Linked DNA regions of Homo sapiens: all the other regions are linked to region 3. The links come from fine-mapping of genetic effects on gene expression. A gene starts in region 3. Each other region holds a variant in brackets. All regions are shown on one strand. Distances are from middle to middle. Region 1 overlaps LINC02341 (long intergenic non-protein coding RNA 2341). Region 2 overlaps AKAP11 (A-kinase anchoring protein 11). Region 3 holds the start of AKAP11 (A-kinase anchoring protein 11).

Region 1 (2,767 bases), 190 kb before region 3:
TTCACCTCAACTACTGCTGCTGCTTCTATTTCTCCTGCTCCACTTCCTTCTTCTTTTAAAAACCAACCTTTTAAAAATTATTTTATAAACATACATCATTAATGATAATGTGCCGGAAAAGGTATCTTAAAAAAGGACATCACATAAGTAATGCAAGCTCAGTGGAATCTTTTACTTTTATAGGAAAAGAATTCAGGTATTTATTATGTCCCTGCTGAAGAGTGAATAGTATCACTTCATCCAAACTGCTCATCCCACGCCCCAGCATTTCATGTTGTTCCAGAACTGCTAGTTTAACTTCCAGTATAAATTATTGGTTATAGGTAAACATGAACTCAGTTATCATCTGTAGCATCCCACCTTTGAGGATATTTAGGATTATAACCATTGAAGGATGAGGATCATTGGAAAAAATGAGCAAGGCATAGAAGGACCAAGTGCGGGGAAATGAAACTATGACTCCAAAAATTCACAGAGCATGACAATTGCAAAAAAGATGCCATCAGCAAATGTGGTGATTTTCCTACAGCACTTAAATTCCTGTCCTGCAGGTCAACTTAAAAGAATTTTGTCCGAAGGACATCACACAATAATCTACTCACACCCTGAGGTTTTCAAACTTTTAAAACAGCCACTGAAATAAATAAATAGGGTCATATATTCCAATTCATCTGGGATCCCTCTCGATATTTTCTGATGATTGGACTGGTGACCACTTTGCCACACTGTTTAACGTCCATATTATTTTTATACTTATTGTACATTATGTTGCTCAGGCTTAATTTATGAGCACTTAAACAAAGGTGTTTGCTTTTTAAAGTATCTTTCCAGGTGTGGAAATGTTACTGAGTGAAAGTATAGCAAAAGGAAAACACTGTTGAAAAATGTGTTTTAACAATTCTTTGAAGCTATGGACTTTATTGAAGACCCCCAAAAAAGCTATGGCTCCTCTCCTAAAGGGGAACAGTGCACCTACGCGTATGAACCACAGTTCTGAGCATAATTTCAGGATTTGGGTGGAAAAATGTTCCTAGAGTATTAATTATTTCCCATGCTCT[C/T]GTAGGAAGATTGCAGTTTTCTCTAACTCATGCTTGTAGTTTCTATTTTATGCTCCTTCAGGTAATAACAGCCTACTGGAAAGAATCATTAAATAAACAAACCAGGTGAAGTCTAATAGGAAATAATCACTCAACTTAAAAGAAAATGAGAGTGAGCAACCGCACCTTTCTGTATGTTTCTATTTGGCTTTTATGAAAATCTTTTGGGTGTGGGAACTCAGTGTTTATAACTGTTAGATTTTCCATTCTTTGAACTTTGTTATTTGTACAGCAGCTGTAAAAAGAGGTGAAGGCTGTAAATAGGAACTTAATCATCCATGCAAATTGTATTTCATGGCATACGTTACCATAGCATTTCAGAAGTTTTTGTAGGAAGTATCTATGTATTTGAATTGCCTGGTAAATACGAAGATGAACAAGGAAACTACATGGACCATGATTTCCACACGTTCTGCAAGACAGTTCGAAAATCCCTACTGCCATTAACATTCATCTCTTAGAAGTGGTCTGAAAAAGGTGTGGTCTGGAAGATGTTGTTTACTTTGGAAAAAAAATTTTTTTTTTTGTTCTGCTACTACTGAGAAACTCGAATCATTAGGTAAATGTCTCATCTAATTGTTCTAGTTAGGTGTTTCTCTGGAGAAACTGATCACCTATACCATAATGAACACAACACATTATCTCTATATTTTTTTCCATTTGTAAAGATTAAACCAACTAGCCCTATAACACTGCATTTAAACAAATCTATAAATAAGAGCAAGATTAGTCACATATCCATGATTTAGGCTTCAAGTTCTCCTTCTTTTTCCCTTTCTTGCCTATCCTTAGGGAAATGTACCTTAAAAAATGCCCTCATTAAAGGGTGAGATGGGAGCTGGGAAAAATAAATCTCAGTTAATCAGCTGTGGTGATTATGGGCATGGTGTCTCATGCCTGTAATCTCAGAACTTTGAGAGGCCAAAGCAGAAGCATCACTTGAGCCTAGGTGTTTGAGACCAACCTGGACAACAAAGCAAGACTCCATCTCTACCAAATTTTTTTAAAAAAATTATTAGCCAGGCATTGTGGCTGAGGCCTATAATACTAGCTGCCTGGGAGGCCTACGTGGGAGAATCGCTTGAGCCCAGGAGGTCGAGGCTGCAGTGAGCTTTGATTACTTCATTGTACTCGAGCCTGGGCAACAGTGCAAGACCTTGTCACTAAAAAACAAAATAAAACAAAAGAAATCAAAAACCATAATGGCAATAATTTAAGAAGGATATGTTCCTCTATCACAAAGTTGGTCACCACCACAATCATCGTTATTATTGTCATCATTGTAAACATTATCAACTATTACCATGTGCCAGGAACTATGTTCAGTGCTTTCTTTGCACTGCCTTAATAAACCTCACTTTCATATGAGGTGGGGGCCTTTGCACAGGCTAGTTCCTTTGTTTGGAATGCCCTTCTCTACCCCTTTCTGATGCACACTAGCCCATCCTTAACCCATCTGATTAATACTAATCCATCCTGCCACCCATCAGACATTACTTCCTCTGAGAAGACCGCACTGTCTCCATGTTTTTCTATGCCCCCTTATCTTTCTGGATTACTAAGCTGCCAGCCGTGGAAGAGCAGGGTATTTGCTCAATAGGCAGTGTGTAGCACATAGCACACAACCTGGTACATGAGAGTTTGTATTTGTTCAATACATGTGGCCCTTG
Region 2 (2,720 bases), 32 kb before region 3:
GCTGTTCTCATGACAGTGAGGGAGTTCTCATGAGAGCTGATGGTTTTAAAAGTGTCTGGCAGCTCCCCCTTCTCTCTCTCTCCTGCTGCCTTGTGAAGAAAACACTTGCTTCCCCTTTGCCTTGTGCCATGACTGTAAGTCTCCTGAGGCTTTCCCAGCCATGCAGAACTGTGAGTCAATTAAACCTCCTTTGTTTATAAATTACTCAGTCTCAGGTGGTATCTTTATAGCAGTGTGAAAATGAACTAATACAGGCCAAACAGGAAGTACATAGGCACTGCTGGTCATACAGCCTCTGTCCCAACTACTCAACTCTGCCATTATAGCACAAAGGCAGCCACAGAAATGTGTAATTGAATGAGCATGGTGGTGTCCCAATAAAACTTTATTTATAAATACTGAAATTTGAATTTCATATAATTTCCACATCACAAAATATCATTTGATTTTTTTCAACCATTAAAAAAAAACATGAAATCTGTTCTTAGCTTGCAGTCCATACAAAAACAACCAGTAGGCCACATTGGCCCACAGACTGTAGTTTGCCAACCCCTGGTCTAGGAGAAAGAAGGCTGCCTGATTAGGGCAAATAGAGACCTCTCCTAGTTCACCAGAAACCTACATCATCTCTCATCTCAAGTAGACGCTATGGAGCAATTGGATTCAAGAATCCTGGCCAAGCTATATCTCCCTATTTTAAGATGGATAAGAAAAGAGGCAGACCATGTCATGGCTTTAACAGAAGCTACTCAAAAATCTGGAATATCATGTGACTCAATTAAATTCCACCTCAACTTAAAGCATTTTCTCTTTCAAGCAGGACTTACAAATATCATCCTATCAACTAATAACACAAGTTGGTCCTGATATCTTCTCAGGGACAAAGAAGGTTTAAACTGAAAAACTGTAACTAAGTTGTTATTAAAGAATCACTGAGCATGGCTGGTTGCGGTGGCTCACGCCTGTGATCCCAGCACTTTGGGAAGCTGAGGTGGGCAGATCACCTAAGGTCAGGAGTTCAAGACCAGCCTGGCCAACTTGGTGAAACCCTGTCTCTACTAAAAATACAAAAATTAGCTGGGCGTGGTGGTGGGTGCCTGTAATCCCAGCTACTAGGGAGGCTGAGGCACAGGAATCGCTTGAACCCGGGAGGCAAAGGTTGCAGTGAGCTGAGATTGTGCCACTGCACTCCAGCCTGGGCAACAGTGCGAGACTCCATCTCAAAAAAAAAAAAAGAATCACTGAGCACAAGAGATAGCTACTGAAAAACAGGACACTGTAGGACTACCAGAAAGAACTGTCCTCTTAGATTGTGAACCAATCAAGAGAAATGGTGTAAGTATGTAAAGAATTTTCACTTTCTTCTTCAGAGTAGTTTAACCATGGTCTTTATAAGAAAACTTACCCTTGTGAATGAAGAAAGGTGTACAAAAATTTAATCTCAGAATAGTAAATTAATATAGTAATATTCTACATTTACTATAGAATAGTCCCCCCTTATCCATGGGGGATATGATCTAAGACACCCAGTGGATGTCTGAAACTGCAGATAGCATCAAGCCCTGTACATACCAGGTTTGTGGACCTGATAACTGAGATACCTTCTAAGTGACTAACAGGTGAACAGCACATGTAGTATGGATAAACTGGATAAAGGGGTAATTCACATCCTGAGTGAGATGGTGTGAGACTTCATCATGCTACTCAGAACATGCAACTTAAAACTTACGAATC[G/A]CTTATTTCTGGAATTTTCCATTTAACATTTTCAGATTGAGGAAAGCAAAATTGAGAATAAGGGGGGACTACTATATAAAATTCTCTAGCTATTTATTTAATTCAACTTTACCTATTTCATAGCTCTATGAACTTGGATAAGGTGATTATTTTCTCCAACCCTCATTTTCCAGCTCTGTAAATGGATAACACCTTCCCTCAAAAGGGATCAGGAGACCAAAATATATTAAAGTCATGTGTAGGATATGAAACAATACATAAATGCAACAGGGAAAACTTTTGTTTATGTAGGGTTAAAAATAATCATTCCTTTATGAACAGGACCTAAGACATATAGGATCACATTTATCTTTTTAATTTATCATTAACAACCAAAAGAAACGTGAAACTTACCTGCTAACAGCATGCCCAACATTTGTGACAGCTGCTGTCATGGTTTCTGTGGCAAGGCTTTCAGCAAAGCTGGCACCCTCCTGTCCGATCCCACTGTCGGCTGCCAGGCTGGTACTGCTCAGCTCTCGCTCAGCTTTTTCAATGGCTTCAGCAACTATCTTCTCAGCAAGCACTGCCTTCTTATCAAGATTAACATGAATCTGAGGGACACTGAGATGAAAAATCCTAGATTTCTGATAGCGGCTGCTAAATTTTGGATTAGAAGCTGGCTTACTACTGGCGAGAGAACCCTGTCTGAAAAAGTGCTGAGATGAATTTCCAGTGCAATTGTGGAGTTCTTTAAGGTCACAGTATCTGCAAGCTTGACCTGTAAGAGGTGACAACTTTTCTGCATAAGTGACCCTGTCTGCTGATTTTGTGGTCTCAGACACTCGGAACACTGTAGATCCTAGAGTTAGCTCTAGAGTGTCATCCACTACTTTTTTGGCATACTGTTCTACAGCTTGAACAACATTGTCTCCACAACCATATCCATTTAAACTGCCAGTGCTGTGGTAAAACCTGTGATTTTGTGAGGAAGGCTGAAGAGACTT
Region 3 (2,767 bases):
TGGAGTTCAGGGGGCTAGAGAAGGCTAGAGAATTTCTCACTATGGTTCCATGTCTTAGGCAACTTCCCATATCCTCAACAACTGCAAAATATCACTGGCCTAGGAGTCCACTGCTAGGCCCTTATCAATATTGTCGATACTGCAGTTATGTGGGTACATACATTAGTCTCTAGCTCAGCTTGGGAACCCACTTCTTCCCTGATTTCCTTACATTCTTTGACCTTTCATAAATTACTGTTACAGCTACAATAGTGACATTCACTGTCCACCCCTGGGTCAGTTTTGTCAGGAGGAACAACGACAAGAAAAAATGAATAATCAGGGTACCGTTTGAAAAAGTAAATGTGTTTTTCAAAAAAAAAAAAAATCATTCAATTGCACTATTTTAACTGACACCAATCATGCCAGGCACTGGGCTGCCATCCTAAAATGATGACATTAAAAAAAATATATCTGTGCATTACTGATACCCCATTTTTTCTTAGTACTCCATATTTTGAGTATTTTCAGACATAACAAAATAACAATCGACATGACATTTCTAAAACAGTGGGAAGCAGCTAAGCAAAACGAGCATTTTGCAAGCGATTGAAAAGCTGAAAAGAGAACAGGAATTAACTCCAGTTTGTACTAAAGCTATTAGGTATGTATCTCAGCAGTCTTTCTCACCATGAAACTCCTTAACATCTAAAGCTAAACCACATCCAACTTTATATGGTTTTAGAAGACAGACAAAGCAGAGAAAAAAAATGAAAGCTGGTAATATGGGGAAGAGAAAAAATGTTAGCTTTTACTGTCATTGTCACTTTTTAATACTTCGGTTACATCTACATATTTTTTATAAAGCAGCTTAGATGCCTGGATTAACAGCAGTATACTCAATCCATTCGGGGTACTTTATGGCCAGCCTTAAGCCATTAACAGCCTAGGAGAGTATTTGACAGCAAATCCAAATATCAATACTCTGAGGAGCCCCTTGACGCCTTCCGTTTACAAGATCTGAGCAGCGCCTGCTTCCAAGGCTCCGGGGGTCTGACAGTGAAGGATGCTGTTCGGGAACAAAGTGCAACGTCCTCCCAACCGCTGCAAATGTTCCTGTGCGCACACCACGAACACACACTAAGCACGCGCACCACGCACCCGGGGGGCCGTCTCTGAAGACCACCCCGGGGATGGAAACAGCCTGTCATTAAAAGGGGCGGCAGCTCCACCGCCACACTTGGGACCCCAGGAAGACGCGTCTCGAGACCCAGCACCTCCCTCTACTCTGGGCCCGGTGCGGTGAGTTTCCTCCTTCGGCCGCGCTCCTCCCGCCCTCCTCCCTCCGCCATGCGAAGGCGCAGCTCTCGGGCGGCCCCGAAGCCAGAAGGGGGACCAGCGGCAGGCGGAGGGGCTGGAGCGCCGGAGCCGGGCCGCTCCATCCATGCCGGCCGCACACCCGCCGCCACCCCATCTAAACGCAGCCTCCGCGGCGAGCACGTCGGCGCCCGGCTCACCTGGGGGCCGCAGCCTCCGCAGCTCACAGACATGTCACCGGCCTCAACGACCCGTGAGCGAGCCGGGCAAGCAAGCTGGCCCCCTCCCGCGCTGACCCCCAGCCCTCCCCCTCCCAGCCCCGCGGCCCGCCCCCGCCCTGCCCACCCCTCGGCTTCCGCCGCCGCCGCCGCCGCCGCAGCTCCGGCCCGCAACACCGCCTACTCTCCACGCCTCCCACTCTCTCTCGCGAGAGGGCAGCGCGCCTCTCGCGAGAAAAATTCCGCGGCCGAGCCCGCGCAAAAGTGGGTGGGCGTTTAAAAAGGGAAAGAAGGAACAGGAAAAAAAGCCTTCCCACGTGCTCCAGTGCAGCCCGCGGAGCAGCCCGCGGGGCAGCCCCGCTGGTCACATGACTTAAAGGGGGCCTCTCCATTGGCCGGGACCCACTCAGCCTTGGGAGCTTTAAATTCGAGGGCGACCTACGAACCTGCGGCGGACGTCTTGCGCGCTTCCTGGTCCGTTGCCTTGGAAACGGCTTAACCCTTCCCTCTGGCAAGTCCCCAGGCCTTGGCTTGCTCCGCAGATTTGGTTTCAGGCTCTGCCTCTTTTCCCTCGACCCCTTAGTCTTAACAGCCTGGGGCCAGCTGGGCTCCTTCTTCGCCACAAGGCTAGTTTTGCTTTCTTCCGAAGCCCGGGGCCCTTCCCAAAGTGGCAGCCCCACCAGATCCGAAGGCCCAAGGAAGGCTCATCCTTTCTGATGGCTCCGCCCCTTCTCCCAGCATCTCCGGGGAGGACCACTCACAGCGCACCGGGCAACCAGCCCTATCCCAGCCAAGAAGTAGCTTCCAGGGTTCTCAGGGCCCTAGTGCTCACCCTGATGTCTTTACGTGGTATGGAAATCGGAAAGTAAAGCTTTGGTCACTGGGAAGCCTAGCCAGAGATGAAAAGCTGTTATGGTGATTATTTTCACCTAAAATCGGAAGGGCCAGTCCAGTCAAATTGCCCTGTCTCCTAAAGGGCATCTGTTCCTCAAGAGTGGAAACACCTGGCAATAAGAAAGACATTTTTGAGTGTATCCTCGTTATGAGTTAAGTTTTGCCCTGTTCAGAGGAGAGGGTCACGGAAGAAAGGGTGCATTCGTTTGTTCATTTCTTCATTCAACAAACACTACTCTAGGCTGTTGATTGAACAATGATGAAGACAAGTAGTGTAGATTCTAGGGAACTTATCTGAGGGTGAAAAGAAAAAAAATCTGTTGGTTTTAAGCTGTATGCAAAGAAGTTACAATAAGTGA

The links. PIP is the estimated chance that this variant, and not a neighbour inherited with it, causes the effect.
Region 1: its variant is fine-mapped to the expression of AKAP11 in whole blood (INTERVAL, PIP 0.96).
Region 2: its variant is fine-mapped to the expression of AKAP11 in T cells (TOPMed, PIP above 0.99).

Annotation. Positions count from the first base shown.
Region 1 is chr13:42,456,969-42,459,735 of GRCh38, reverse strand. All of the region lies in intron 3 of LINC02341 (long intergenic non-protein coding RNA 2341), which reads right to left. Among named protein-coding and RNA genes, the nearest start is that of LINC02341, 33 kb to the right of the region's middle. The variant C/T (reference allele first, on the strand shown) is at 1,059.
Region 2 is chr13:42,303,271-42,305,990 of GRCh38, reverse strand. AKAP11 (A-kinase anchoring protein 11) reads right to left here. Exons shown (of 13, transcript NM_016248.4): 8 at 2,128-2,720. Among named protein-coding and RNA genes, the nearest start is that of AKAP11, 32 kb to the right of the region's middle. The variant G/A (reference allele first, on the strand shown) is at 1,735.
Region 3 is chr13:42,270,958-42,273,724 of GRCh38, reverse strand. It overlaps AKAP11 (A-kinase anchoring protein 11), which reads right to left and starts at 1,573. Exons shown (of 13, transcript NM_016248.4): 1 at 1,497-1,573. RefSeq lists a silencer at 1,314-1,663 and an enhancer at 2,204-2,383.